Linked DNA regions of Homo sapiens. The protein of the gene in region 3 interacts with the protein of the main gene of each other region in a pairwise test. Each region holds a gene or a part of one and is shown on either strand. Other genes may lie near its edges.

Region 1 (7,728 bases), on a different chromosome or scaffold from region 3:
TATTTTTAAGATGTTCATTCTCTCCATATATTGATCTATATATTCAATACAATCTCAATTAAAAAGTAGGTTTTTTCTTTTTTCTTTTTTTTTTTTTTTTTGAGATAGAGTTTTGCTCTTTTTGCCCAGGCTGGAGTGCAATGACAATCTCGGCTCACCACAACCTCCTCCTCCCAGGTTCAAGTGATTCTCCTGCCTCAGCCTCCCAAGTAGCTGGGATTACAGGCATGCACCACCACGCCTGGCTAATTTTTTGTATTTTTAGTAGAGACAGGGTTTCTCCATGTTGGTCAGGCTGATCTCAAACTCCCGACCTCAGGTGATCCGCCTGCCTCAGCCTCCCAAAGTGCTGGGATTACAGGAGTGAGCCACCACGCCCGGCAAAAAAGTAGGTTTTTATGTAATTGACAAACTGGTTCTAAAATTCATATGAAGATACAAAAAAACCCAGCAGTGTTCCAGTTACTTCGGCTGTACTACAAATTACTCCAAAACTTCATGAAGCAAAACAATCATATATTATGCTCTCAGATTTTGTGGATCAGGAATTCAGCCACAGCACTGTGGTTTGTCTTTGTTTCATGTCTGAGGCTTTAGCCAGAAGACTTACAGGCTGGGTCTGAAGACTCTACACTCACACAGATAGATAGGCTGCTACTCTATGTGAGTCAGTCTAGGCTTCCTTACAGCATAGGAGCTGAGTTCAGGAGGTGAAAGTCCCAAGAAAGGGAGAGAGCAAATGCAGTGTTAACTTCCACTGCATTCTGTAGGAACAGGCAGTCAGTCACAAACTCCCATCCAGATTCATGAAGAGGGAATATAGATCCCACCCCTGGGTGGGAGGAGTGTCAAAGTCACTAGGAAAAAGACCATAAGGAATGGAAAATATTGCTGCAATCAGGAAAATACAAACTGCCACAATAATCCTGGGGGCGGAGGCGGGCAAGGGAAAGAGGAGGGTTCAAGGAATTTCAAGGCTCATTATAAAGCTACAGTATAATATACAACTATCTTAATTTCAAGGCTTATAAAGCAATGACATTCAACACTGTCAAACTGACCCAAGGATACCCAAATATAGCAATGGAAGAGAATCCAGAATCCAGAAATAGATCCACACATATAGTCATTTGATTTTTAATAACTTAGCACCAAGGTAACTCAATGAAGGAAACAACAAATGATGTTAGAACTACTATATATTTGTGTTTCAAAAAAAACTACTCTCAACCTCTACCTTAAACCATACACAAAATATAATTCAAGAATTCATTCAGGATACATCACAGACGCCCATTTAGCAGAACAAAATATGGATGTCTGAGTACCTGGGTACTCCATGGCCTCTCAAGTAGTTAAATAATTTATTTTTCTAATGTAACAACAAAACATTACAGTTTTAACGTAATTTGACCAAGCCCCTTAGATCAACAGGTGGCTCCACTGGGGCTGCAGTGAGCTATGATTGTGCCACTGTGCTGTAGCCTGAATGACAGATCTAGTCCCTAAAAAAGGGAGTAGGGGGGAAGGTAGATTAAATGCGAGATATTTGGTCAGTCATTGGTCAAACACTGCTAAGCACTATGACAGACAAAAGTCAGCCAATAGCTTCGTTTATGAGCCCACAAAATCAATGATCACAGTTATTATGTGATCATCACTGTGATAACAATTGAAACTCATCTTAACCTCAAAATTTCTCACAACAATTTCCTAGGTGCAAATACCTGATCAACCTATAAGAGCAGTCTGCTCTTATAAAAGTCTATAAGAGCAGTCTGCTCTTATAAAAGTCTATAAGAGCAGTCTGCTCTGCAGGAAAATACATAATTATCACATTGCACATTCCACCTTCCCAGAGTCATCTAAAATTTAGCGGCGTGCTGGTGAAATGCTTAACAGTCGGCTTTAGGCAAGGGCTGATTTGTAGTGTAGCCAATTTCCATTGCGTATTCATTCATCGTGAGCATGACATTACTGAATTGTGAAACTACTGAACCCAGAGATGGGAAGAGACGCACAGTAGAGCACCATAGTATAGTATCTCCTCCACAAAGATACAATAGATGTATAAATAACCTCAAAAGTAAAGTAACAATAAAACATGGTAAATAATAAAAGTGATGAGTTTTTAGTATTTTCACTGCCTTTGTTTTTAACATAATTTACGTAATTTTACGTTTATATGATTGAGTTTTCAATGATGGCTCTGTTTAGCAATGGGATCCCGTGAGTCAGTACTAAATTAAATACAACCTAAACATTCAAAATAGGGTAAGACGCATAACTTAAAGACGTGCTCCACTGCGAATTACACGGAATCTTTGACTATGCCGACTAAACAGAAGGCTATTCCTAAGTACCATCCCATATGTGCTAGTTTTTCAAAACCAACAATAAAGCAGTTGGGGAGGTGCCTTGTACACAGAATGACGCCACGAGGCATTTGAGATGAACGTCCAAAGGGACAAAGAAGCCAGACCGCTTCCGAGAACGGGGACAGAATGTCTTCGGGCTTCTGCGCCGGGGGCGGCGCCGGAAGGCTGGGTGAGCTCCACTGGAGACGACACCCCAGGGTGGTTAGGCCCCAGACACGCGCGTGACCTTGGCCGGACCCTGGGAGCGGCTGAGCCAGGGGCGATCCCCGAGCGCCCTCCCCGTCCCCGCGCCGCTTGGACTCCCCGGGGAGCTCGGTCGCGACTGGCGGGCGCGGAGCCCTTCCCCTTCCGGAGCCCAGGAAGGCGGCTCCCCGCGGCGCCGGCCGCGCGCGCGCCCGCCCTTACCTTGACTGGACGCGGCCATTTCGGTGAGCTTGTCTCGCGAGGACACACGTAGAGGATCTGCGCGGTAGGCCGCGGAGTGGCGCGCAGTTGTCGCCACCACTTGGCTTCCGGCACGTGGGGCAGATGTTTCCATTCCCACGGCGGCAGCGGAAGAGGGAGGGCCGGGCGCGCCGCGGCTGCTTGCAGTCTCCGCAAGCGGCTACATCACAGAGCTCAGCGTGCGGTGTCACAGGCCCCGCGGTCCCGCCCAACAGATGCACCGAGATGCGCGTGCGCAGAAAGCGTCCCGGGGGTGAGGCTCCCTCCCTCGCTCTCCCTCTACTCCCGCCCCACTCTCCCCCACTTTCCCCCCTCCACCCACCGCGGCCGTCGGGGCTCGCTCGCTCAGTACCTGGAGGCGAGTTCCTGACGCGACTGCGACTCAATCCTCGCCTGGTGAAGAATATTTTACCTATGACTCACTGAAAATAAAGACGGCTGAGTGACCGTGTTTGTTCATGTAAACATTGAACAAATATTTATCGGCTTCTGCGATGTGTCCTACTCTTTTAGTGGAGGAAGACACATTTTATTTATGTATTTAATTTTTCTTTTGAATTTTACATGCGAGTTATACTTAATAAAACTCACTTCAAAATATACCTTCAACAGAAAATCCAGCAACAGTTTCTATTATGTTAGTTAAAACAGCCAGTCTTTTCCTTTACTTTTAAAAATTATTCATAAATGTAATTAGTGAATGATAATAAACATTGACATCTGATCCACTGCTTTAGGAGTGACACAAATGAAGTTAACTCAGGCTATTTTCTTTATAATCATTGTGCTATTGTTTTCTTTTTCTTTTCAATTATACTGCTTAATATAGGATTTTGTGGCACCATAGGAGTTGAGTAAAAATAAAAGGAATAAAAATATACCTTATCTGGCCGGGCGCGGTGGCTCACGCCTGTAATTTCAGCAGTTTCGGAGGCCGAGGCGGGCGGATCACGCGGTCAGGAGATCGAGGCCATCCTGGCTAACATGGTGAAACCCCGTCTCTACTAAAAATACAAAAAATTAGCCGGGCATGGTGGCGGCCGCCTGTAGTCCCAGCTACTCGGGAGGCTGAGGCAGGAGAATGGCGTGAACCCGGGAGGCGGAGCTTGCAGTGAGCCGAGATCGCGACACTGCACTCCAGCCTGGGCGACAGAGTGAGACTGCGTCTCCAAAAAAAAAAGAAAAAATACGTTATCTATGAAGATTTCCAATTTGATTTCTATTTATCACAAATGGCCACAGTACTCCTTTGTACTTTACCACATACCATATTGTATTCAGTAATTATTTGTGAATATGTAATTGATAATATTGTAGGTTTTAGAGAATCCTTGAAAACATGAAAATTTGGTAATGGGGTCTATTTTGATTATTTATTTATTTATTTATTTATTTTATTTTTGAGACAGAGTCTCGCTCTTGTTGCCCAGGCTGGAGTGCAGTGGCGCGATCTCGGCTCACTGCAAGCTCCACCTCCCGGGTTCAAGCGATTCTCCTGCCTCAGCCTCCCAAGTAGCTGGGACTACAGGCACGTGCCACCATGCCCGGCTAATTTTTTGTATTTTTAGTAGAGGAGGAGTTTCATCTTGTTAGCTAGGATGGTCTAGATCTCCTGACCTCGTGATCTGCCCGCCTCAGCCTCCCAAAGTGCTGGGATTACAGGTGTGAGCCACCGTGCCCGGCCATATTTTGATTTAAAATTTAGCAATAATAGATAAAATTTTCAATCAACTAAGCCCTTGGGCCAGGGAATGCTATTCCTTAAAAAGTGCTTCTATCAATATAGCCTCTGACTCATTACTTTGTTAATTTTTAAATTGTATTTCATTCCTGATTAACATTCCCACCCAGATTATTAATTATACAATCTGTTAACTGTAGAACCTCAAACATGTTGGATTGTACTGTATTTGTCTGGAAGACACATTTTTAAAACATTGTAATCGCTATAAGAGAAGCACTGGGAAAGAAAGGAGCTTCTATGCCTGCAGTGCCTGAGGAGCCCTTTAACAGTGTGCCCCGCCCCTAAGCTACTCATGCAGTCATCCCCATCCCAGTTAGTCAACTTTATTCCAAAAAACTTGGTGTTCCAAATTTTTCCTTCTCAAAGCCCACAGATCCAAAATTCATCAGCAGTTCCCACAAACGTTACCCTCACAATGAATCCAGCCATTTTTCACCCTCTCCAGTGGTACCATCATAGCCCAAGCCGCCACCATTTCTCACCCCCGGTTAACAGGCCACCCTCCTTCTACCCTTATCCTGCTAGAGTTTGTTTTATCTACAGTGATCAGAAAGATCAGCCTAAAAGATAATTCTGATCACCACCCTCCTCTACTCACAACCCGGCCGTGTCTCCCCATTGCCCTCAGTGTAGAAGTCAATGTCCCTTTGCTGAAATGCAACCTTAGTGAAACTTTCCATGACTAACCTCCTTTAAAATTGCAACCTGGTCCACCCTTACTCCCCCTTACCCCACTTCTCTTTTTTGCACAGCACTTATTTTACCTTCTAACATACTGTATAATGTACTCATGTATTGTAATTATTGCTTATCATCCCTCTTTCAGTTGCTTATATTTTTCATCAATGTGTACCCAGTGCCTAGGACAATATCTGTCTAGGACAAATGGGTAGTTATGTGGCTGTAGGCAAGCCATTTAACCTCTCTGTACCTCAGTTACTTTATCTGTATCCACTTTGCGGTGTTGTCATGAGGATTAAATCAGATAGCCTATGTGTAGCACCTGGCAGTGAATTTATCACCCTGTACTGTAACTGTCTACTTTTCTGTCTCCTCCATTGGACTGTCATTCCCAGGGGGTTGGGAACTGGGATTTCTTCATTTCTGAGGCATAGAAGTATAGCATAGTGGTTAGGAGCATGACTTCTGGAGCCAGAGTACATGGGTTTGAATGCTACCACTCACAAGCTGTGTGGCCATGGAGAAGTTGCCTAACCTCTCCGTGCTTCAGTTTCATCACCCATAAAATGAAGGTAAGAATAGTACCTGTATTTAAAAGCACCTAGAACAGTTCCTGGCATATAGTGTCAGCTGTCATCTCTGCATCCTTGTACCTGTCAGAGAGGAGTGTTTATCAAAGGGGCTTCTTGCTGCCTGTTTCCAAACCAGTCGACAATATACCAATTGCTCCCTAACACATTCTTGTTTGTGCAGAACTGAGCTCAATGATAACATTTTTATAGCAACCCTGATCAAGTTTCTTCTCATAATCTCTTACACTTTGAGGCCCCTGCAGGGGCCCTCACTCTCCCTAATAAACATTAACCTGAGTAGGGTGTTTGAGCTCACCATGGCTACATTCTGATGTAAAGAGATATATCCTATACCTGGGCCAAATGTAAACAGCCTGGAAAAGTGTTAGGTTAAAAACAAAACAAAATAAATAAATGAATAAATGCCAGGTGGTTATGAGTGCTATTGAGAAAAATGAAGCCAAGAGGGATATCAGTGATGCAGGTGGGGGTAAAGAGCTTACAACATAAATGTGGTGTTCCATATTTAAACCTCATTCAACAGGGAAGATTGGAGCTGAAATGTGAAGGAGTTGTGGGAGTGGAACTACGTGGAAATCTGGGGGAAAGGTGTTTTGGGTAAAAGAAATAGCAAGTGTTGAGGTCCAGGGGCATGAGTGTGCTTGATATTTTAGGGAAGAGTAAGGAGACCAGTATAACCAGAGTGAGATGAGACTACAGAGGTCAGGAGAAAGGGCATGCAGACCATGTGGGATGCTCTAGGACCTAGGCCATGGTAAAGATGTAGGGTTTTACCCTGATGGAGGTCAGAAGCCATTGGAGGATTCTGAGAAGAGGAGTGACAGGACTCGCTTTATAGTTTTAAATTATAACTATAAATTATAGTTTTTAAAACAATAGTTGCCTAACCTCATGTTATATGTAAAACTACAGTTTTAAAAACTATAAATTCCTCATACTGGCAGCAGTGTGAGGGGCAAGGGCAAAAGCAGAGAGACTAACAGGTTGCTGGTTACTCTTGCTAGTGCAAGTGAATTCTAGAATCTTCGACAACATCCAGAACTTCTCTTGCTGCTGCCACTCAGGAAGAGGGTTGGAGTAGGCTAGGAATAGGAGCACAAATTAAAGCTCCTGTTCACTTTGACTTCTCCATCCCTCTCCTCCTTTCCTTAAAGGTTCTGATTAAAGCAGACTTATGCCCCTACTGCTCTCAGAAGTGAATGGGTTAAGTTTAGCAGCCTCCCTTTTGCTACTTCAGTTCTTCCTGTGGCTGCTTCCCACTGATAAAAAGGAAGCAATCCTATCGGTTACTGCTTAGTGCTGAGCACATCCAGTGGGTAAAGTTCCTTAAAATGCTCTGCAAAGAAATTGGGACTTTTCATTAAATCAGAAATTTTACTTTTTTCCCCTCCTGGGAGCTAAAGATATTTTAGAGAAGAATTAACCTTTTGCTTCTCCAGTTGAACATTTGTAGCAATAAGTCATGCAAATAGAGCTCTCCACCTGCTTCTTTCTGTGCCTTTTGCGATTCTGCTTTAGTGCCACCAGAAGATACTACCTGGGTGCAGTGGAACTGTCATGGGACTATATGCAAAGTGATCTCGGTGAGCTGCCTGTGGACGCAAGGTAAAGGCATGTCCTGTAGGGTCTGATCGGGGCCAGGATTGTGGGGATGTAAGTCTGCTTGGAGGAAGGTGCAGACATCGGGTTAGGATGGTTGTGATGCTACCTGGGCCCCAAAGAAACATTTCTGGGTAAGGTGTGCACACATCTGTGTTATTAGCAGAAATGCTAACTGCCAATTCTTTTCATAGGTCTGACCTATTTGTTGATATTTTGTTCTGTTTTGTCCATTGCTTCTCTTCGTCATATGCTGCTCCTCCAGAATCTAGAGACTGGAGTAGAGGGA
Region 2 (7,914 bases), on a different chromosome or scaffold from region 3:
GGAAGGCGGGGTTCCCACCACAGCTGGGCCAGGCAGACCCACTTCCCGCGGACTCAGCACTGGCCACGAGTGGCCCTGAGACCATGTTAGGGTTGCCTTTTAGAACTTGGCCCAGACCCTGCCGGCCTCAGGATCTGCCAGGAAAGCGGAAATGAGGAAACGAGCAAACCTCCTCCTGGGCAGCTGAGGCCATGCACGGCCCAGACGGCAGGTATACAGGGCACAGCTACCTACCTCCAAGGACCATGCCTCTCGGCCCAGATGTGGCCCCAGGAACCTTCAACCTGCGGGCTGTGAGGGGCAGGAAGGTGTGGCTGGCACCAGATGGCCGTGTCCTAACCCCATCCCCACCACCTCCCTGCCTTGAGACACCCTGGGGATAACAGATTCAGGCCATTTTCACATTAACATTGTTGTTTACTATTCCTTCTGCTGACAGCCACAAGTGAGCTGACTCAATCCCTGGACACTGATGGGGGCCCTCACATGAAGGGCCACAGGGGCGCAGGGCACACGGGGTAGGGGAGACCTGAGAGCTTCCCACGGCCGTGGCCCAACAGAGCCCACCCAGGTTGGAGTTCCACGTGTGGCTCCTCCCTGAGCCTTGTCCACCCTGGGAGGTGAGCAGTTGTGCCCCATTTTACAGAAAAGGAAACTGAGACTCTCCATTTTACAGAAAAGGAAACTGAGGGAGCTGGGCAAAGCGCTGCCCTCTCCAAACCACTGCCAGGGGTCACCAGTGGGAGAGGGTCTCCGTGGCAGGCAGAAGGATGAGGGCGCTGAGTGCTGGCCTGGCTCTAAGCACTTCATATACATCAGCTACTGAGTCCTCACCACTCTCTATGGCAGGCACCGCGACCACACCCATTTCACAGATGAGAAACTGAGGCACAGAGTGCTGACATGATGTGCCCAAGAAACGGAGAAGCAAGGTCTTGAGGTTGGGAAGAGGAACAGGTGTGTTGGGTGGTCCTGGGCCCCCAGGCTGGGTGAGCAGAGCGGCCCTCGAAGTTTTCTACCCCTCAAGGGGAAATGTGCTCATCCTCACACTGGCTCATAGCCTTTCCACAGCTCCCTGGACACCAGACCGTGATCAGGCCTGCAAGGCCCCTCCCATCGGCCTGGCTTCCCATCCCCCCACCTCCTACCTGGCCCTCATGTGCTCTGTGGTCCAGCCTCTGAGCCTTTGCTCCCACTGTTCCCTCTGCCTAGATGCCCTTCCACACATCTCAGAGAGCCAGATCTGCTCACCCACCTTCCCTGCCCTCCAGGGCTCAGAGCCAATGTCCCCACCTCCACAGAAAGCCTTCCCTGACCACCATGCCCCGCCCCCCACGATGGGCTCCCAGCCCCCAGGGAACCCCCTGCTTTGCCCTGGCCTCTCCTGCCCTGTCTGGGCTGGGCTGCTCTCCAACCGCGGCTTGGTGGGGCGGGGCTGTGTCTCTCTCCCTCTGGTGCCCAGAGCCAAGACAGTGATCCGGGAACAAATCCAACCCAATCTCCTCTGGGCTTGAGATGCACCCATCTCAGGAGGCACAGCCTATCCTGCCGCCCGCAGAAGTGAGCAGAGACTGCTCTGAGTGGAGGGCATTGCCCGGGCAAGGTCAGGGTTGGGGGAGGAGCAGTATCCCTTCCTTTCCAAGGCGCTTCCAAGCCACTGACCTGTTTATTACCTGACTTGCTTTCCCCACTTCCCTGAAGGCAGGAGAGACCCTTTGTTCTCTCTTTATAAGACCATGTCTAAAAGGCCCAGCGAGGTGTGGCAACTTCCCAAGGACACACAGCCGGAGGAGCCCCCTGCCTATTGCTCCAAAGTGCTCACACACTGGGGCAGGGCCAGGTCGCTGGGGTCCCGCACACCGGTCAAGTCCTGCAGTGCGACAGCTCCTCTCTAACCTAGGAACAAGTGTCCATGCAGCCCCAGGGCCATCCTATCCCGTGGCTCATGGGGCCCCGCCTCCCCGAACATGTCCTGTCCCCACAGCACCGGCCTAGGACTGTTCACCAGCGAGTGGGCAGAGTGTCTTTGCCCCAGTCTGGTCCACGCCATGGAGAGGCCTGGAAAAACCCAACAGGCTGCTGTTCCCTGCCCCCATCCCTGAGGGGGTTAGAAAAGGAAAGAATGTTCAAAGTAAACAAGTCACCAGAGGGCCATGCCAGGACCTTGCAACAAACACAAGGTGCTCAGTAAGTGCTGAGTCCTGGGATGAAGAATTCTGAAGCGGGACCACTACCAGGGCCTGCCCCCTGCCCACAGCCCTCCCAGGCCGGGCAGGGCAAGTTCTGGAGGGCCGGTGGCGGCATACACTGAAGGCTGTGTGACGTTTCTATTTCTCAAGGCAGGTGAGTGGAATAGGGACCACAGCGGGCCCCAAGTTCCCCCATCAAGGCACGCATCAGATTGTGTGGTCAGCGTGGGGTGACGTAACTGTCTGCATGCAGCTGGTCTGGAGCCCGGAGGCTGTGACTCCCCTCCGCCCGCCTCCGGGCAAAGTGCGCGGAGGAGCCGGCACGGCGAGGCTGAAGTTAGAGAGGCCCGCGCGAGAGTGGGGGGGAGGTCGGGAAAGCCGGGCGCCGGCAGTCCTTAGCCCGAGGAGCTGCGCCGAGGCCCCCTCCGCCGTGCAGCCAAGCGCGGGCGCTGCTTAGTGGGGCTGGGGACGCCAGCCCGCCCTGCGCCCCCACGCCCCCTCGTCCCGCCCACTTGCCGGGGGTGGCTGGAGCTCCCGGGGGCATCGTTCTGACCCTGATGGGGCGGGAAGGACTTGGCCTAGAGCGGGACGTCCCCCAACACTCTGCAGTGCGGACGCGGCGCACACAGGTGCCCGGGGAGCCGCGGCGCCCCGAAAGGACAGGGCCTGGCAAGATCATGCAGCGGTGGGGGGAAGGTCTTACCGAGGCGTCCGGGGAGCCGGGTGTGCCCGGAGGCAGGCCGCCGTTGAGCTCGTACTCCTCGGTTCCCGAGTCCATGGTGCGGCCGCCCAGGCCGCCAGGATCCGGGCCTGAGCGCGCCCGAGCCTCAGCCGCAGGCTCCAGCTGCGCGCCCGCCCCCGGCCCGCCCCCGGCCCGCCCGGCGGCGAGCTGCTGCCCCAGACTCCGCCTCCACCCGGGGCGGGCCCGGGGCCTGGAGGCTGTACGCTGAGAGCGCGCAGTTTGGGGCGACCCCAACCCCTCGGGCCTGAGACGGTCCCGCGGGGCCCCACAAGGGAGGGGGCGCGACGCCGATGGCCCCAGAGGACCCTGCGCTGCGTCTTGCTCTGAACCTCCGTCGCGGACACTTTTAATCCACAAAATGAGGCCAAGAACGACCTTTCCCTGGCCACCAGGCAAACTGCATGAAAGCGAGCGGGCGTTGCCGCTGGCGCCCACGCTGGGTTTTTCCCAGGCGGGGTTCGCCCTGGGAACCGCAGATCGCTCCAGCACAGCGCCTGCTGCGCCCCTAGTAACAGCGTCAGAGAGTCCGGGGTTCCCCTGATTGCGGGCCACGCTGACACAGGGCTTCCCACTCCCTGACCTTAGGTTTTCCTGCCTGGGAAATGGGGGTTATGAGGGCACAGACTGCTGGAGGGGCTGGGGGAGGCACAAAGGGGATGAACGTGCGCTGACTCATGGGCCCATCTGTGCCACCTGTGGCAGGGGGTGGGCTGGGGGCAGCACAGTGCCCAGAGCCCTGGCCAGATGCTAGGCGGGCCCCCACCTGTTGTATGATTGAAGTGGTTGTTTGGTCTCTGTTTCTCCATATGTTCATTCCTCAGCACTTTGCCCATCTGGGGGCCTGGGGGTCGAGAGCATGTGGCGGCCACCCTGGGAGGCCAGGGGAGTTCATCCTGACCACAGCATAGTCAGCTTGCGGCAGTATGGCCACTCTATTTCCAGAAGGGCAGTGGAAGGAAGGCCAGCTCAGACCCCAGGCTCTGTCCAGTCAGGCTGCCACCGGGACAGGAGGTAGGAGTGAGTGGGCATGGGCAGGGCAGCAGGATTGCGCTTGCCCTGATCCTCCAAACGGGGTCATCCCATGAAGGAGGAGCTGTCGTGGGCCCACTTCACAGCAGAGAAACTGAGGCTCAGGCTGTCACTGCCCCAGCTCTGCCTCAGAGGGGATCTGCAGGACAGGGTCTGGCACGGTGGCCCACGACGGGGATGGTTGCTGTTGTCCTCGCATAATCAGGGCACTGTTGGCACACCTGAGTGTTCACCAGCAGCTGGAAATCCAGCACCATTCACACAAAAAACTCTCTCACAGTATGGGACAAATCCCTATTCTGGGGGATAGTGCCTGCCCACGAGGGCTCAATTCCTGGAGGGGCAGGAGGTGTGGGACCACAGAGAAAATACGTCACACCCAGAAAGGGCCCTGGGAGCTGCAGGGGAGCCCTGAGACCTTGGAAGGCCAAGGGCGTGTAGAGAGGCCCCGAAGTAGGAGGGCTTGGCAGGTGGAGACCCCGTCCTGAGAGTATTCTTTCCTTTGTGCCATGTGGGAGCTCCTGCAGTGTGGTTCATCATTCCCATCCTTTTTTTTTTTTTTTTTTGAGATGGAGTCTTGCTCTGTCGCCCATGCTAGAGTGTAGTGGTGCGATCTTGGCTCACTGCAAGCTCCACCTCCCGGGTTCACACCGTTCTCCTGCCTCAGCCTCCTGAGTAGCTGGGACTACAGGTGTGCGCCACCACGCCCGGCTAATTTTTGTATTTTTGGTAGAGACAGAATTTCACCATGTTGGCCAGATCACCTCCTGACCTCAGGTGATCTGCCCGCCTCAGCCTCCTAAAGTGCTAGGATTACAGGCATGAGCCACTGCGCCTGGCCCCATTCCCACCTTCTAAGAGGAAGCCGGGAGGGTCGCAGCACCAGTGACAGTTGGGACATCAGCCTCGGGGTTTGTAAACCTGCTCTGTGCTGGCCGTCTGAGACCCTCTCCCAGCCTCAGTTTCCTCAGCTCCTGGGGCTGCTGGCAGGACGTGTGGGTGTCAGGGCTCAGGCAGGCTGCAGCGCTGGAGTTCCCTCGTCTGCTCCGTCATCCTCATTTGAGTATGTAGTGTCTGTTTTCCCCACTGTGCTCAATGCTGTTTACCCAACTGTTCTCTGCTGGATCCAACCCAGGACAAGTCTTAAAGGCACAGTGTACCCCGTGTCACCTCCATCTACCTTTTTTTTTTCTTTTTTTTGAGATGGAGTCTCGTTCTATTGCTCAGGCTGGAGTGCAGTGGCGCGATTTTGGCTCACTGCAAGCTCCGCCTCCCAGGTTCAAGCGATTCTCCTGCCTCAGGCTCTCGAGTAGCTGGGACTACAGGCGCCCGCCACCACGCCTGGCTAATTTTTTGTATTTTTAGTAGAGACGGGGTTTCACCATGTTAGCCAGGATGGTCTCGATCTCCTGACCTTGTGATCTGCCTACCTCAGCCTCCCAAAGTGAAAGGATTACAGGCGTGAGCCACTGCACCGGGCCCAACCACCTACTTTCAAGTTCTCCTGGAGACCATGAGTGCATGAGCTGTCCAAGACCAGTTTCTAGACGCTGACCCTGAGCTGAGGGACATGTCCCCAGGAGAGACACAGAGGAGGGGTGTGGCTGGGAGGAACGGGCTGGCAGATGCCCCAGCAGAGCAGCCCTATGTGTGGGTGGGTGTGCACACACAAACACTGTATATGTACGAGGGCCCCAGGCCTCTGTGGAGGAGCCCACAGGGTATCTCAGGATGCCTCTCTGGTGCCCAGGGAGGCTTGGTGCATCCCTCTCCCCCATCAAAGACTCTAGTGGATTCTTCTGGGGCTGGCGTTGTGTTGAGTTCAGATCTGCCCCTTCTGGCTTGGGATGTGCTTCCTCATATGTAAAGTGGGTATAAGGCAAGATGGCATGTGAGGACCATGGAGGTGTCACCCCAGCGTGCTCCTCACAGTGCCACCTCAAGCAGGTGGCTCCATCCCGCTGACCAAGAATGAGACCCCAGTGGGGCAGAGAACAGGCACACCGGAGGCTTGGACCTTCTACTCACCCACTGTCCTAGGAGCTGGGACTAAGCACGGTCTAAGCGACCCCCACCGCGTACTATGGGGAGTACAGTTGTGTCTCTCAGACCTGGGGGAACATGCGGTGAAAGCACCAAGCTGTTGAAAGGTCCATGGGTCAGATGGACCATGTTTTCACCTACAGAAAGCCTTCAGAAGCAGCCAGTCCCTGGCCTCCTCCACCTCGGAGAGGCTTGCAGGCAGGTATGCCGTTTCCACATCACCAAGGGAGAAAGCGAGTCTGGCAAGGTGGCGCAGCATGCCCGAGGTGACCCAGCTCTGCATGCCCACCTGCCCGCCTGCACATGCTCTTGCTAACATGAGCGGGAGGAGGACGGGGCTGGCAGTCGGCCCAGGGCAATGGCAACTCCCTGGAAGCCTGTGGTATTGCCAGCACCAGGCGTGGCCCATCCATTCCCCACCCACCTGAAGGAGCTGTTACCTGGCATCAGGGTGGGCCCAGGAGTCTGCATTTCTATCAGGCGGTCCCCAGGGACCACAGCTCTCACTGGGTCAGTGTACAGAGCAGGGAGGTAAGGGAGGCGGGTGTGTAGCGTGGCCACCCCATTTCCAGAAGGACAGAGGAAGGAAGCCCAGGCCTGTGAGGAGGTGCCATGCCATCATCCCCACACTAAAGATGGGATGGCAGAGGCTCAGAGAGCCGAGGGACTTGCCAAGGTCACCAGGCAGGGCTCAGTGGGAGGGGAGGCACAGCCAGGTCAAGGATGATAAGGGGCGAGGTGATGGGAGATGAGCACCACGCAGGTATGAGAGCCTCTCATGCTGTCCACCACAGAGAAGCAATGTGTCCAGGCTGCACAGCGAGGCACAGCTGGCCCTAGAAGGCCACAGAACAACAGAAACAAAGTGGACGTCCACCACAAGGGAGTGGCTAAGTGGATTATGGCCATCTGCATTCGGGAGTGGGATGCCATCGTCTACAGAGCAAGCGAGGCCAGGCCAGCGGATGTGGAGGGGTCCAGCTGCACTGCGGGCAGAGAACAGGCAGGAGCAGGAGGCTGGCCCCTGCTTCCTCTGCTGCACCCTGACACACTGCTCTGTTCCTTCCTGTTTGTGCATCCGTCTCTCCCACTGGGGCTCCCAGGGGCCAGGCTGGGGCTGATGCCACTTTGCATTTATGGACATCTGTGCCTAGCAAAGCTCTTGTCCCCAGCTGCCACAGCAAAGTGGCAGAGAGAGTAGTCATCCCCCACTATCTGTTCTCTTCTTCCTGCTCAGTCACAGGCTGCTGACTTTGAGCTGCACCAGTGGCTTCCCAGAATCAGAGCTGCATTTCTCTCTCCCCTGCAGCTAGAGGTACCCTTATGGCTACATTCTGGCAATGAAAATGTTGTGTGCAACATCAGGGAAGGAACCCTAAACAGAAGGGGTGTGCCATTCTTTATTACTTCCTCTATCTTGCTGGCTGGAAAGTGGATGTAATGGCTGGAGCTCCAACAGCCGTATTGGACCGTGAGGAGACCTTGGCCATGGGAGCCTCAAATAGTGGAGCTGAAGACAGAAGCAACCTGCATCCACAATGCCTGCAGCACAGGCCTCCCTGGGCTGCCCACCTCCAGACTTCTTAGGTGTGAGTAAGGAAAAACAAACAAACAAACAAAAAAACAACTATCCTGTTCAGAGGCTGCTATAATTTAGTTTTTTACTTTTTTTTTTTTTTTTGAGACAGAGTCTCACTCTGTCGCCCAGGCTGGAGTGCAGTGGCGTGATCTCGGCTCACTGCAAGCTCCGCCTCCTGGGTTCACGCCATTCTCCTGCCTCAGCCTCCCAAGTAGCTGGGACTACAGGTGCCCACCACCTCGCCCAGCTAATTTTTTGTATTTTTAGTAGAGACGGGGTTTCACCATGTTAGCCAGGATGGTCTTGATCTTCTGACCTTGTGATCCGCCCGC
Region 3 (7,017 bases):
AATCGCAGCTACTCAGGTAGCTGAGGCAGGACAATCGCTTGAACCCGGGAGGCGGAGGTTGCAGTGAGCCGAGATTCACGCCATTGCACTCCAGCCTGGGCAATAAGAGTGAAATTCCGTCTCAATTTTTTTAAAAAAAGTTATGTCTTCCTCTCTGAGCTAAAGTGTGTCTCATGCTTTAATCCTCACCACCATCCTTTGAGGTGGCCACCGCCGCGACCCACCTGACAGATGAACAGAGGGATGGAACCTTGGGGGGCTGCTACTCGAGGGTAGGGGGCTCCCAGCTCAAAACCAGGCACTGAGGTCACGGAGGAAGGTAGGAGAGGAAACGAGCAGCAATGACCCGACTGGCACGGTTCTCGGAGTGTAGCATGGGGACCCCTGGGGTTGGGACCCTGGAGAGGATCCCTGAGGCCAAATGGTTTTCATATAATACTGAGACACTGGTATTTTTCACTCTTCCTCTCTCAGTAGATGGGGCCACTTTCCAGAGGCTGCGTGACTGGCAACATCACACAGATGGGATGTAGAAACAAACACAGGAATCTAGCTGTCCTATGAAGCCAGACATTCCAAGGTTTGCAAAAACGTAAAACAGAATGATGTTTTCTAAAATAGTTTTTTAAAAATAAAAATAGGCTGGGTACTGTGGCTCACGCCTGTAATCCCAACACTTTGGGAGGCTGAGGCGGGTGGATCACCTGAGGTCAGGAGTTCGAGACCAGCCTGGCCAACATGGTAAAACCCCATCTCTACTAAAAATATAAAAATTAGCCGGGCATGGTGGCACACATCCTGTAATCCCAGCTACTCGGGAGGCTGAGGCAGGAGAATCACTTGAACCCGGGAGGCGGAGGTTGCAGTGAGCCAGGATTGTGCCATTGCACTCCAGCCTGAGGGACAAGAGCGAGACTTTGTATCAAAATAAATAAATAAATAAAACCCTGGTTTGCATCCTGGTTTCAGCACTTCCCACGAGACATGCACAGTCAAGCCCCTCCCGGAGCCTGTGTTCGGAGGTATGAGATGAGGCGACCACACTGCCCTCGCTACCAGCTGCAAAGATGGCCTGTACAGGTGACAGACGGTCTGACGGCCTCCACAGACTCTGAACCAGCACCACCAAGTCTCACTGCTGCCCTCTCTCCCTCCACACCAGCCAGCTTAGAATTTCTGGCTCTTTCTCCCCTGGGCCTGGCAAGGCCATCTTGGTTGGCCTTGCGGCAGTTTTCTGCAGCTGCGGGGAGGCAGGGTGGGGCAAGGACCCACATCCAAGGACCTCAGGCAAGCATCTTCTCCCCCAAATCTACGTCATCAGTCACAAAACACTAACCTGAAAAGACCTTGCAACAACCCAGTTTCATCAGCTCATTCTACAGATGAGGGAGTGAAGCTCAGAGAGGGAAAGTAGCTCGTCCAAGACCACACAGCAGGCCAGGGCGGGCAGGCAGGCAGTGGGCTCGTGGACAAGGATATGAATCAGGAGCCAGAGACACCAACATTCAAATCCTGCCCTGACACCCTGTAGCTCAGGGGCTTCGTGCAAATGTCTGGTCATTTGTAAGATGGGCCCCTCCATGTCCAGGCCAGCATTCTTCCCACTCTACCAGTGGGTTCCACACCGTGCTCATGGTGAAGGGAGTTCTGAGTTTTGGAGGAAGCAGCCAGGGGAGGGGGTGCTCAGGGAGCTCCCCGCAAGGCAGCCCCCTCAGCCAGACACAGGCGCTGCACCACAAAGCCTGCCCGCCGTGCTGCTGCCAAGGCCGCCAGTGCACAGAACATTCAGGGCCCCCCATCCCGGTCATCCCCAGAATCTCAGCAGAGCTGTGCAGACCCCTGGAACAGCACCTGACCAGGCCCGAAGTCCCCTCTCAGGGTAAGCTGAGTTTCCCCATCATGGGGATGCCCACTGACCTGGTTGGCAAAGAGCAGGTGGCACACAGTGTGGTCATCAGGGTCCTTCATGATGGCGCGGATCACCTGCAGCATCGGGGTGATGCCTGCAAAATAGCCGGCCGGGCCTCGCACGTGCTGAGCGAGGCCTGTTCACAGGCACCGCCCCGCCCAGGTGTACTGGGGTGGAGGGGCCAGGACCACTGGGCCTGGGCCCCTGACCTCTGGTAGCTCCCAGGCACTCAGAACCTGCGCCTCACCCACACCCCAACCCCACCCTTAACATGAGCCGCCGGACGCCTCAGTGGGGGGTTCCGTGTACCTGTCCCTCCCGCGATCATGCCCACAGACTTCACTGTCCTGATGATAGGGTTGGACTTTTTGTCAGGTCGGATGGCGAACTTCCCTGGGGAGAGAGAAGGGGTGAGGCCCGGCCATCAAACATGCCATGTGTGGTGGCTGGAGAGGCTGGAGAGGGGGCTGGAGAACCTGCCCCCACTGTGAGGTCCGAGGTAGAGGCAGCTGCCATTCTAACGCGAGCCATGAGGAAGGTGCAGGAGCAGTGGAGAGGCTGGGAACCCGGAGGCTCAGCTCTGTCCTCTTGCTTGCTTGTTTCAGATGCTGAGAAAGCCAAATAGAGGCTGGCAGTGGGTGAGACGTGGCCCCCAGGAGTGGCCTGTCTGCAACCCCTGTGCCAGCAACTTACCCCCTCTACAGCCAGGGAGACTCAGTTCCCAGAGAGGGACAGCTGGCCTGACGAGAGTCACCCATCCACACAGAGCCAGGGGCCTGCACCCTGCACCCAGCACGCCCAAGCTCTCCAATTCTCTGAGCCTGCCGTGTAACCAAGGGATTCCGACCCGAATCACCTTTGCCCTGGTAGACCAGCAGCCCACTGGGGCCCCGGAACTCAATGGTGTCTCCAATCTGCATGCTCTCCAGGTACTGAGACATCTTCCCTCCAGCGGGAAACTTGGGATGGGTGTCCTTGAAGTAAACCTGCAAGACACCCCCGCAGCCCTCAGTCCCCAGCTCCAGGTCTCAGGGGCGAGCTCTTGCCCACAGTGGGAGACAAGTGCCTCTTCTGCAGCTTCTTCTGAGGCCCACACATGGCCTTCTCCCGTGGAGCCCCATCCACCCAGCCGTCAAATCCTACCTGTCCTGCACCCCGTCCTTCACCCCGTCCTCCCAGGAGTCAGCCTCCACCTGACATATCCGGGGAAAGCAAACCACCAGCCTCGTGTACAAGGCCGACCAACTCCAGGGCTGGATGCACTCACATTTCACCAACTGTCTCTGGGGCCCCCTCCCAACGGGAGACACTGAACCCGTCAGCAAAGTCAAGGCTCTGGGAGGCCCACTAAGCCACACTCCTCCTGGTGGACACTCAGTCCCTTCCGTTTTGTGCTGTCGCTAAAAACCTCCCTCACTCTTGGGACTACTTCCTGCCCTGCACTCTCTAGGATTACTGTCTTGGGAAAGAGAAGGGCCTCAATCCGACACCTACAAAGAAATGGGGAGACAGAGGAGGAGCGGCTCACCCTGCCCAAGGAGTCTGATGGATGGAGAAGGGGAAGGTGGCTGGGGGAGGGACAGCGTGTACACAGTGCCTCAGGGAGGGGAGCCTGTTGTGGCTTCAGCACAGAGGGTGGCTATGGGGTGTGGAGGCAGAGGGGAGTGGAGGGCCACGGACAGGCAGGCAGAGCACACTGTCCTGGGCCCTGGGTGCCAGGCCAGGACTCTAACCTTTATCAAGGACCAAGGGAGCCAGCCAGGTCTCCAAGCCAGGAGAGGCCTGGTCACCTGTGAGTTTTTCATCCTCAATTTGAATCCTCCTAATAGCTTCTCCACATTTGGCCAGAGAGACTTCAACGTGAACAGATGCTTGAGCCCTCATCACCTCCTCTGTGCTTCTGGACAAAGCCCCAAACCTTACTGGGGCCTCCAAGGCCCCGTCTGGCCCCACTGACCTCTCCCACCCCTTGCCCCAACCCTCCAGCCACTTCAATCCTTGAGCCTGCTGCTGACTTCAGGGCCTTTGCACCTGAAGCTCCTTTTCTTCCTTCTTCACCTGGTCAGTGCCTACTCAGCCCCAGATCTCACCTTCACTGTCACCTGCTAGGGAGCCACTCTCACCAGCCAACCCCACCCATCCCTGGTGGCCCTTCTGGAAGCTCGGTCGCAGGTACCTGTCCCCTGCAGGGAGCACTGGCTTCCCCATGACTATGTGTCCAGTGTCCGTCCTCCAGCCAAAGACGGGCTCCTGAGGCCAGGCCTGGGCGCCCCAGCAAGGAAGGAGCCCGGGCCAGGGCCCTTCCCACCCTTCAGATCCAGTGCCTGCCCCCAGACCTGGCAAGGTAAGGGCCTCAGCTACGGCCCAGTAAGGGGGCTCCAGGGGTACCTGAGGGTGCTGGGCTGGGGAGGCTATAGGGCTTTGGCCTTGATTGGGGAGGGTCTCCAACACCCCACATACCCACTGGTCTAGGCTGCTTCTCACCCTCTGTTCTGCAGGAAAGCTTGTATTTCTTTTTTTTTGACTGGCTCTCATTCTATTGCCCAGGCTGGAGTACAGTAGCATGATCTTGGCTTACTGCAACCTCTGCCTCCCAGCTTCAAGTGATTCTCCTGCCTCAGCCTCCCAAGTAGCTGGGATTACAGGTGCGCACCACCATGCCCAGCTAATTTTTTTGTATTTTTAGTAGAGACGGGGTTTCTCCATGTCGGCCAGGCTGGTCTCTAACTCCTGACCTCAGGTGATCCACCCGCCTTGGCCTCCCAAAGTGGCTTACAGGTGTGAGCCACTGTGCCTGGCTGAAAGCTTGTATTTCTAATTTTCATAAAAACGTCCCTGCTGGGGCCGTCATGCTGCCTCTTACTTCCCACTCGGCATGTGTGTTTCAGGTTCCGGGCTGCTGCCCCTAACGCCTGCATCTTCTCCTGTGAACCTCCACCTCGAACCCCGCAGCAGACCCCAGAAAGCCCATCACCCCAGCTCCCAGACAACACCACACGAGCCCCTCACATGTTTCCCTAGCAGGCCTGAGGGACATTTCTTAGGGAAACGGGTAAGAACAGGGCCTGCGTGTCACAGAGGCCCGGCCGCTGACCACGGTGGAGTGGCTGCCTCACCCCGCACACTCGGGACCCAACTCCCAGGGATCTCCCAGCGTGAGAGCAGGGACGGGACTGCGCCGTCACACCTCGCAGCAGGGGCGTCTGTACCGCCAGCCGGCCTTCCTGGAGCCTCTGCTGCAGGTACCTGTCCTTGTTTGAAGGCACTTGCCCTGAACCCTGGCCCCTGTTCTCTGCCAAGACCCCCTTCTTTGGCTTTTGTTGGTAAAGATGACGTGCTATTTACTCAGAAACCAGGCACAAGGGAGCACTGGGTCTTTGGAGTCCGGGCTGCGGGGGGACATGGACTCGAGAGGGGCTCTAGAAGCCACTGCCCCTGCAAGCCCCTGAGGAAGTGGGGCAGCCATGACCGAGGCTGGGCTGCACAGGGCAGGAGCGGGAGACTTCCCTGTCCAGGGGGTCCACATGGGCTGTTGCCATGGCCACCCACCCACACCCCCTCCACAGTCATGACCCAGAGGCTTCACCTTGATGACCAGGTCCACGAAGCCCTTGTCATCATCGCTGGAGATGGGTGTATAGGGCCGGACGACCAGGTTTCCATCAATTCGAGCCGAGAGGTAGATGTGCTGGCCTGCAGGACAGAACGGGGTCACTCTGGGCCAGAGATCATCCTGCGGGTGACCCCTGGGTCTTGTCAACCCACTCCCCTGCACCCCACCCGGCATTCAAAGCCTGGCCTGGCGTCAGCTCCCACGGCCCCCTCCCACCCCTCCCGGGGATTCCCCTCACGTCCCAGCTTCCTGCCTCCATGCCTTCACTCCTGCTGGTGCCACTGCCAGGGACTCTGGGCCTTCCCACTCTCATTCCAACAGACTCGCCCTCAAAGGCCCAGGGCAGCTGTCACCTCCTCCTGAAGGCTTCCCTGCTCTCCCTGGTGGAAATGTAAAGCTTCCATCTCTCTGATCTAGTGCCCCAGCAGCCTGCCGGGCTCCGAATGGGCCCAGCAGGGGCGTGACTCACCGACAGGGAGGCCCAGGATGTGCTGGGGTGACGGCAGGGCAAAGCGGAAGCGCCGGGTGTCATGGCTGATGATCTGGAGAGAGGCCCAAAGCTGCTGAACGGTCCCCAGGGCAGAGGCCTCCCAGGGCGGCTCCCAGGCCTCGGAGCCCCCATCCCATTCCTCCTTTGTGTCCCCACCCTTCCCCAGTGCCTGCTTGTCCTTGTAAGACGTGACGCCGACGCCAAGCACAGATGCACACACATGCACGCTGCGTGTGAGGTGCTGAGGCCAGGCGCACGCTGGGTGTGTCTGTCCTGCTGGCCTAGAGGGGCCACAAACAAGGTGGCCAGAACAGGGAATGAACCCAGGGTCCCAAAGGGAGGATGCCAGACAGGACGGGGAGGGAGGAATCCATCTCTGCCATCAGCTCAAGCAGTGGCCTGAAGGGGCAGGAAGAACTTGAGGGCTGGATGGGCAAACTGGGGCAGAGCTAGACAAGGCTGCACGTGCCCAGGCCTGCATCCCAAGAGAGGGGCTGCAGAAGCCACTGCACCTGAGAGCCCCTTGGGAAATGGGGCAGCCAGGACTGAGGTGGGCTTCACAGGGCAGAAAGTGGGAGCCTTCCCTGCCCAGGAACTCCAAGAGCCCAAAGCCAGGCTTCCACCCTGCACAGGGTGGGCACCCAGGGCATGGTCAGTGGCTGGGACAGTGGCAGAGGAGGAGGGGGGCTGGCTAAGAGCCAGATTGGGCCAGGGAAGGAGCTGAGACTAAAACCCCTGAGGTCTTGTTAAGTGGGTCTTACGCTCAGGCCAGGGACGATCACATAATCAGTTCCAGTCGGAGCTGGAACCAAACCCAGCGTCCTGAGGGTGCACTCCCTGTGGGGTCCCCAGTACCCAGCATGGCCAGGAGAGGGAGTGTGAAGAAGCCATGCGGAAGGTCGGCGCTGCAGAGGCGCTTACATCCAAACGTGGCAAAGTCCACATGTGGATGGTGTCATCACTTAGAGGGGGACAACAGACCTCTCCAACAGGGCAGGACATCAC
Region 4 (7,949 bases), on a different chromosome or scaffold from region 3:
CAGGAGATCAAGACTATCCTGGCTAACATGGTGAAACCCGTCTCTACTAAAAATACAAAAATTAGCCGGGCATGGTGGCGGGCGCCTGTAGTCCCAGCTACTCGGGAGGCTGAGGCAGGAGAATGGCGTGAACCTGGGAGGTGGAGCTCGCAGTAAGCCGAGATGGCGCCACTGCACTCCAGCCTGGGCAACAGAGCCAGACTCCGTCTCAAAAAAAAAAAAAATTATTTGTAGAGACAGGGTCTCATTATGTTGCCTAGGCTGCTCTCAAACTCCTGGAATCCAGAGATCCTCCTGCCTCGGCCTTCCAAAGTGTTGGAATTACAGGCATGAGCCACCACACCTGGCCCTTTCCTACTTTCCATGTTTAAATATTCAAGAATCAATTGCTTTTTTTCATGGCAGCCTGTATGTGTTCAGTAGGCATAATACCTTAACAAATTTGAAGATACTAATACTTACTTTAAAGCTTTCTTTTGTCTTACATTAGCTCCACTGCTTCAGTGCCTAGTTCTGTATTTGTTTGGTCTGAAGCTTCTCTTAGATGCTACCGATTTCCCACAAATGTTTAGTGATTTTTGTTGTGTGTTCACATTATAAATGTGCTAGTAGTATCTCAGTCCATATGAAAATCACTGTACTCCTGCTGTGAATTCACATTTGTAACTAGCCCTATAATTCAATTTTACACTTATACCTAGTGCTTGTGTAGCATGACAATAACAATGTAAGTTCTTTGACTTGCAGTCCCGTGATTCTTCAATCCACTTTCAGTCATATCCTTTTGGTATTTCATTTCCTCTAAAAAACCACTAACTTGAGTAATACAGTTCTTAAGTAAATGTTATGCTAAACTTCAGAGTCAGATCCTCACCAGCTCTAACAGACTTGTCTAACAGTTAAACAAACAATGACAGTCCGACAGAAGACAGTCATAAATGTGCAATTCAAAGGGTAAATAATAACATGGTAATGAATGAATCACTTACGTCTTGAACTCATAATAGTTATGCTTTTTTAAAACCAACCTTGAATGTTATATTAGTTAAAATAACAAATTCTATTACATTAAAAAAAAGATGACTCCATGTTGGTTAAATTTTCTGCCTTTGGTTGGTAATGGTATGGTTGGTAATGACTCCATGTTGGTAATTTTCTGCTTATGCCATGACTCAGTCATTCTATAGCTGACAGAAATGCATACAGATGCTCACCAAGACATTTAATTTACAAGAATGTCCACAGTACTCTTTTTTTTTTCTTTTCTTTTTGAGACCGAGTCAGGCTCTGTCGTCCAGGCTGGAGTGCAGTGGCACGATCTCGGCTCACTGCAACCTCCACCTCCCGCCTCAGCCTCCCAAGTAGCTGGGCTTACAGGCGCCCGCCACCACGCCTGGCTAATTTTTGTATTTTTAGTAGAGATGCGGTTTCACCATGTTTGCCAGGCTGGTCTCGAACTCCTGACCAAGTGATCCACCTGCCTCGGCCTCCCCAAGCGCTGGGATAAAAGGCCTGAGCCACCACGCCAGGCCCACAGTATTCTTAATATCCAAAACACATCATATACAAAAATTGGGAACATAAATGTCCATCAACTGAAGAGTAGTCACATATTATTCAATAGACTATTACACAGTAATAATACAATACCATGAAATAGCATGGGTGTGTCCCACAAACAATATGCTGAGAATACTACGTGATTCCATTAACATGAAGCTCAAAACAGAGAAAACTAAAAGCAGATAAGAGAAGTTAGAATACAGATGGGAAAACAAGGATATAACTGACTTGGAAGAAGCACAGGAAAATAGGATGATGGAAATGTTCTATGGTTATAATTTGATATATCTGGTGGTTCCACAGGGTAATAAGTATGTAAAAATTCATTGAGCTGTACAATTAAGATTCGTGCTCTTATTGATTTCATATGTATTTTATGCCTCGACAAAAACAAAGAGAAAAATGCAGCTTCTAAACTGGTTGGAACTGTGTTTATTTAGGCCAAAATCCTCTGAGCCACAAATACTGGAAATCCATCTTTTTTCATTCTTTTAGTTACATGACAACTTTAAACAAATGGTACAAGAACAATAATACAAAATGAACGCTAACACTCAGTCCTAAAATACTTGGCTTCTTACTTCCAAGATCGAAGCTACTATTTTAATACAACATTCAAAAAACAACATTAATTACCAGACATGAAGGCCCTGCTCCCGCGAGCCTTGAATGACGGTGAAACGTCACGACATCCCATATCTATCTCAAAAGCACGCTAGAAAATACCTCCAAGTTTAACAAGCCAAGGACTCAGGAAGAGAAGCTTCAGATGTATAATCAAACTATCATACCGCCAATACCATCATCACAAACAGAAGTATCACTGTCGTGCTTCCTGCGTTGCTCAAGGGTAGAGTCATTTTTAAGGTGCATTCTCCGACAACGCCAGAGGCTCCCCATCTCCTCCGCCCCACTGAGCCCTCCACGACAGAGCATCTTTACCGGCGCTCGCTCTGCCATCTACAGATAAAGAGGGGCTGAGGGCAGAACTATTTTAACGCGATGACGAGGTCACCACTGATTAAAAAGTTTATCCACTGAGAGGAGCAGAGATGGTGATGAATAGGTAAAAACAAAACGAAACAAAACAAAACCCAACACTGACAAGCGAACCAATCGTCTCTGGCCGCGCTTTCCCTAAAACCGGTGCCGACTCCGGCAGGCTCATCCCTGAGAGACAGGGCCCCCCGCAGGACCGGTCCGCTAGGCGACCCCACCCGACCACACAGGAGCCCGCAGCCCCGGCGCCCGCACCGCCCGGGCCGGAGCCGGCGGGAGTCGCGGACCGGCGGGCGAGGCCGGGCCAGGTACTCACCGCGCTCGCCCGCTCTGCGCTCCACCGCCTCCTGCGCCGCGGGGACACCCGGGCGGCGCCTCACGCCTTGGGCCCGCCGCCGCCTCAGCCACCCACCCCCGGGCGCGCCGCCGCGCCTGAGAGGCCACTTCCGGCGCGCGCGAGGAAATGAAGCCGCCGCGCGCCCGCGGCCCCGCCCAGGAAGCTCCGCCACTGGCAGCTGGGTACCGATTCATCACCGACGTGTTTAAAGTATCCGTGTGTGTGCCTCCAAAAACCGTTTGTGGAGACAGCAGAGTGCCCGAGGCAGGAAACCGCTCCGGCCTGGAGGCGCCCCTGCCCGGACTCGTGGACTGCAGCGCTGTCCCGCTCGGAAGCCGATCCTGGGAGTCCGAGCGGGGCCGCGGGGCCTGCGTGGCAGCCGAGTCGAGGGCTTCGGGCCGCGGGGCTGTGGAGCGCCCCTTGGCGCTGGGCCGCCGGCAGCCGTGAGCGCATCACTGCATTTCCCTGGAGGAATTCCTCATCTGTTGAATGAGGGAGTTGAGGCGGACACGCTGGGAAATGGCTTCGAGCTCACACACTGATTTTCGTGAGTGGAAAGAGAAGCCCTTTCTTAGGCGTCTTCCATACCACTGCATGTTCCAGGGTCCTCCCTGGGCTCTCTGTCTCCCACGCCACCGCGAGCACGGCCTAAGCGGGCGAGCGAAGGCGCGACGGCGCCGAGAGCCGGCTGTGGTGGGTGCCGGGCGCGTCACCGCGGGCTGGCGGGGGAGGGGACGCTGGGAAGCTCTCCAGAAAGAGGAGCCGCCACCGAGCAAATTCCCATCTGCCACGCACCGCAGAGCCTCGCCCTCCGCCGCCAGCATTTTCTTTCTTTGTTCTCCTAGCCCTACAAACGCTGGGTTTCCTTTCTCATTCGTGGACTTTTTTCCCTGGATCCTTCTTACTGCTCCTACCCTGTGGCCGCACGTCTGGCAGATGCGCGGCGGGCGCTGCCTGAACCCCCGAATCCTCACAAGCCTCTGTGCAGCGGCCACGGCCCTCAGCTAGCGGCGGGGAGACTGAAGCCGCAGGGTCAGGGTTAGTTGCCACATGTTTTAAATTCCTATCCAAACTTCCATTATAATTGTTTTTATTTATTTATTCATCTATTTTTTGAGACAGGGTCCCGCTCTGTCGCCCAGGCTGGAGTGCAGTGGAGCGATCACGGTTCACTGCAGCCTCCCCACCTCCGACTCCAGCGATCCTCTCGCCTCAGCCTCCCGAGTAGCTGGGACCACAGGTGCATGCCACCATGCCCGGCTAATTGTTAATATTTTTTTTGGTAGAGATGGGGCCTCCCTCTGTTGCCTAGGCTGGCCTTGAACTCCTGGGCTCAAGCGATCTTCCAGCTTCGGCCTCCCAAAGTGCTGGCATTACAGGCGTGAGTCACCCCGCCTGGCAAGAATTGTTGTTTTGAAACTAACTGAGGTTCTCCCATCAATGGATTTAAATTGTTACTTTTTAATGATTTTTTTTTAAGTAGCCAAATACTAAATGTATGTAATTTGAATGTGGAGAGAAGATAATGCATGATTCAAATTATGTGGCTGATCATGGGTGATACACTGGGATATAGTTGTAAAATAAGTAGTTCTCCTAGGGAAAATATTAAAGTACAACTGTGTTGGGTTTAATATCAGAAAAATGTAATTAAAAACATTTCCTGCCAATAATTTCCAATCTGATACTTAAACAAAACAAAACAATAAAAGTTTCCCATCTCTTTCGGGCCTTTTAAATTTCTACCAAAAGTAAGTGATGCTGGCTGATTCCCCTGCTATAGCAAGTTGTGAATAAATAGCCTTTGCTGGTTTCCACAGTTTTCCTGGTGATCCCATGGTAAGTCTGTACTGCTTGTCCCTGAGGTCCCCAGGCTTCCACCCATTGTGCCACCCAGAGGCCCCTCATGCCTCCATGTTCTCGGCCTATCAGGTGCGCCGATGTGGTCAGCACTAGGGCTCACCTCACTCTGCGTGGAGGTCTCTGGCTATTTATTCTCAGTTTGGTACTCTGGTTTTGTTATTGATTCTCATTTGTCTGGCATCTCTAGTGGAATCAGGCCATTCTTTTTATCCCTTTTCACTGTATTTTGTGTTAGTGTTTAGTGTTGTGCTGTCAAAAAGTGCTGCTTGTCATAAGAAGGAAAACCGTAGGAAAGGACACAGGCATGGGGCTCATAAGCCTCTTGTTTGAGCCAGCCTCGCAGCTCATGATTTAGCAGTTCTCATCACACCGGCCTCTACTTGGAGAAACTTTGCTGTGGGTTTCCAGTAAAACTGAATGAGGTTCTCCTTCCGTCTCGCTTTCATGTCCTGAGAGACACAAACATTCCATTTCTCGCCAGCCTCACCAGCCAGCATTCATGGTGTTGTCTAAGTTTAAATCTCCTCCTCCAGAAAAAACTCCTGCTTCTTACATATACTCTCTAACAATTCTAATCCTTACGCCCATCTCTGAAAAGCATTAACTTCACCAAGGTTGATTTGGTGAAGATCTTATTTGGAGAACATCTAACTTGAACAAAATTGCTCATTTGAGAGATGCCTTAGAAACGAAAGAGAATAAGATTTCTTAGGCCCAATGAGCAGCCTTTTTTGATTGGTAGTCAGAGGTCTCCAAATGATATTCTGATTCAAAAAGTGCTTCCCTGAAAGACTCTGGCTAAAGCTGATGAGCGATTTGGCAAACTTAAGCAGCAACAACCTAGACTCATTTTCCTAGTAAATCCTTCTGCTTATCATCCATTTGCTTCCCTAATACAGCTCTCCCTCTTCTCCCCCTTATCCTTCTGATCTCTTCCCTTCCACACATCTGTCCACACTTCTCTTCCTCTTGTCCAGATCCCTGCCCTTTCACAACAACCCTCCTATGACCCCAGGATGCCAGCTGCCTCTCTGAAGGCCTATTCCTCCATGAGCCCCATATACAGACAACTGTGGAATTTAAACCTTAGACCCAAGCTAAATTAATAACCATAATTAAGGATTTCCCCAAACCCAGGCAAGATCAGCAACTATGCATAAAATAATTAAGAATACTTTGGTCAGGCACTATGGCTCACACCTGTAATCCCATCATTTTGGAAGGTGAATCAGTGAGGACTGCCTGAGCCTACAAGTTAGACCAGCATGAGCAACATAGTGAGATCTCCATCTCTATGGAAAAAAAAACCCAGGCATGGTGGTGTGTGCCTGTAGTCCTAGCTACTCAAGAGGCTAGATGGGAGGATCACTTGCGCCCAGGAGGTTGAGGCTGCAGTGAGCCATGATTGCACCACGGGCACTCTAGCCTTGGTGGCAGAGCAAGACCCTATCGCAAAGCGGCGGGGGGAAGCATGTGACCCAGTGTTACCTAACCCATATCAACTTGTACACATTGACCAGAACCTTGCATGCTAAATCCTGAATGGCAAAAGTTGACTAGACTCCCCCAAAAGGGATCCTAGGATCCCACTGTCCACAATAAAACTGAAGAGTTAACAAAGAGGCTCAAAACATAGGGCAAAGTCTTCTAAAAGCCATATCTCAAACATTCCCCCCACCAAAAAGATTAGACCATAATCCCTTGTCATGCAAAAACAAACAAACAAACAAAAGGACCTGCAGGAGTTTTTTTTGGGATAGGCTAGAAAATACATTGTATCATTTGGGAGTCTAGAAAGTGGCCCTTTCATTGCTTGTTGTCAAGGAGCTAAATCTGAAATCGGAGACCTAATCAAAAACAGAAATGAGAATGGGAAATAGCCCCTTAACCTGAACTACAACACCTGGCAGACATTTTAAAAGTGCTTTAGAACAAAAATAAGACAGGACCTAAAATTAACTTGTGGCCCTGCTGATCAAACAGCTGGGTAGCCCCTCCCCAACCAGTCAGCTACTGACAAGGGCACTTATAGATACTGTATACAGAAAGGACACTGAGAAAAAAAGATTGTTCAACTTAGAAAACAAAAATCAAGACAAAAAGAAAAATCCCTCACTTGAGATCAATGAGGTGCACTGGGGAAAGGAAAAGCACCAATATCCTGCAATACCTTTAAACACCTGCCATGCATTAACCATACATAGAAATGGTGCGTTGGTTTTCCTAGGGTTGCTGTAACGATTTACCACAAACCGGTTGGTGTAAAACTGCAAAAACCGTAACATCACCCTTGGTTATTCAGCACTCTAACTGGGGAGTTACTGACTCATTGTTTATGCAAACAATCAGAGCAATGTTCTCATCTGTGGGAATCCTGTTGTCATAAACTTATCATTAACCCTGGCAGAAGTCATTAGCAATGCCCCTTCTTCCCTAGATGGGGCACCTATCAGTCTCAACTCATTGGCATGAGTAGTGATGGACAGTCTCATTGCTGTAGATTTCTTGTTGGTTGGTGATGGCCTCTGCCACTGCTAATACTGCATCTGGATCAGTGAAACAAGAGAAGGTAGAACAGGTCACACATCACCTTGAGGCAAAAGCTATTTGGCTTTCTAAGGTTGATCCTCATGGCCTATATGGGATTTGCTCTTGGCCTGCATTGGTCAGCTGAGGTTTGCGTTCAAAGCGTCTCACAGGGACAGTTGCTCTTGTTTCTGTCATAGTGGTCCTGATGTTGTTCCACTGCATCCCATTCTTGTCAAATGAGCACTGTGATGCTATAACAACAGAAGGATCAAGATCTCACAATACGGTTGACCAGAGAGACAACTGAATAATCTCTGAGCAGTGAAGAGCTGGATCTCTAGACTTCCTTGAGTTGGCCAACCTTTTACAAACAAGAAAATGACCGACAAGGGGGACTAAGAGACTGAACATGCAAACAGACAATGGCCAGACCACATACGGCCAGAGGATTTGAATCAGATTCTCTGCAGAACTAGCCAGGAAGCCAAACCACAGCCTCTGTAACAATTATCCCAGAATGGTTAGGACTTGGTCAGGAACTGCAAGCTTCCCTATTTTTTGCCCACTGAACTAAACAGAGAAAGCCACCTGTGTCCCCCAAACCAATCACATAAGAGGCCCTCCTCCTGGTTAGCTGCCTCCAGCTTCCCCAGGCCAA

What was found.
Region 1: the proteins of CYB5R3 (region 3) and FUNDC2 interact in binary tests that used the Homo sapiens proteins (3 or more experiments, as listed by UniProt).
Region 2: the proteins of CYB5R3 (region 3) and NINJ1 interact in binary tests that used the Homo sapiens proteins (3 or more experiments, as listed by UniProt).
Region 4: the proteins of CYB5R3 (region 3) and CSGALNACT2 interact in binary tests that used the Homo sapiens proteins (3 or more experiments, as listed by UniProt).

Annotation. Positions count from the first base shown.
Region 1 is NC_000023.11:155,022,127-155,029,854, reverse strand, and holds the start of FUNDC2 (FUN14 domain-containing protein 2), read right to left. Parts: upstream 3,012-7,728; 5' UTR 2,917-3,011; coding exon 2,784-2,916; intron 1-2,783. Other genes in the region: F8 (coagulation factor VIII isoform a preproprotein), read left to right, coding at 7,303-7,445. UniProt on the Homo sapiens protein: Binds directly and specifically 1,2-Diacyl-sn-glycero-3-phospho-(1'-myo-inositol-3',4',5'-bisphosphate) (PIP3) leading to the recruitment of PIP3 to mitochondria and may play a role in the regulation of the platelet activation via AKT/GSK3B/cGMP signaling pathways.
Region 2 is NC_000009.12:93,131,251-93,139,164, forward strand, and holds the start of NINJ1 (ninjurin-1), read right to left. Parts: upstream 3,002-7,914; 5' UTR 2,968-3,001; coding exon 2,893-2,967; intron 2,344-2,892; exon of another isoform or gene 1,762-2,343; intron 292-1,761; exon of another isoform or gene 235-291; intron 1-234.
Region 3 is NC_000022.11:42,625,387-42,632,403, forward strand, and holds part of CYB5R3 (NADH-cytochrome b5 reductase 3), read right to left. Parts: intron 6,065-7,017; coding exon 5,992-6,064; intron 5,603-5,991; coding exon 5,496-5,602; intron 2,896-5,495; coding exon 2,766-2,895; intron 2,303-2,765; coding exon 2,219-2,302; intron 2,004-2,218; coding exon 1,918-2,003; intron 1-1,917. UniProt on the Homo sapiens protein: Catalyzes the reduction of two molecules of cytochrome b5 using NADH as the electron donor.
Region 4 is NC_000010.11:43,133,497-43,141,445, reverse strand, and holds the start of CSGALNACT2 (chondroitin sulfate N-acetylgalactosaminyltransferase 2), read right to left. Parts: upstream 3,002-7,949; 5' UTR 2,879-3,001; intron 2,874-2,878; exon of another isoform or gene 2,200-2,873; intron 1-2,199. UniProt on the Homo sapiens protein: Transfers 1,4-N-acetylgalactosamine (GalNAc) from UDP-GalNAc to the non-reducing end of glucuronic acid (GlcUA). Required for addition of the first GalNAc to the core tetrasaccharide linker and for elongation of chondroitin chains.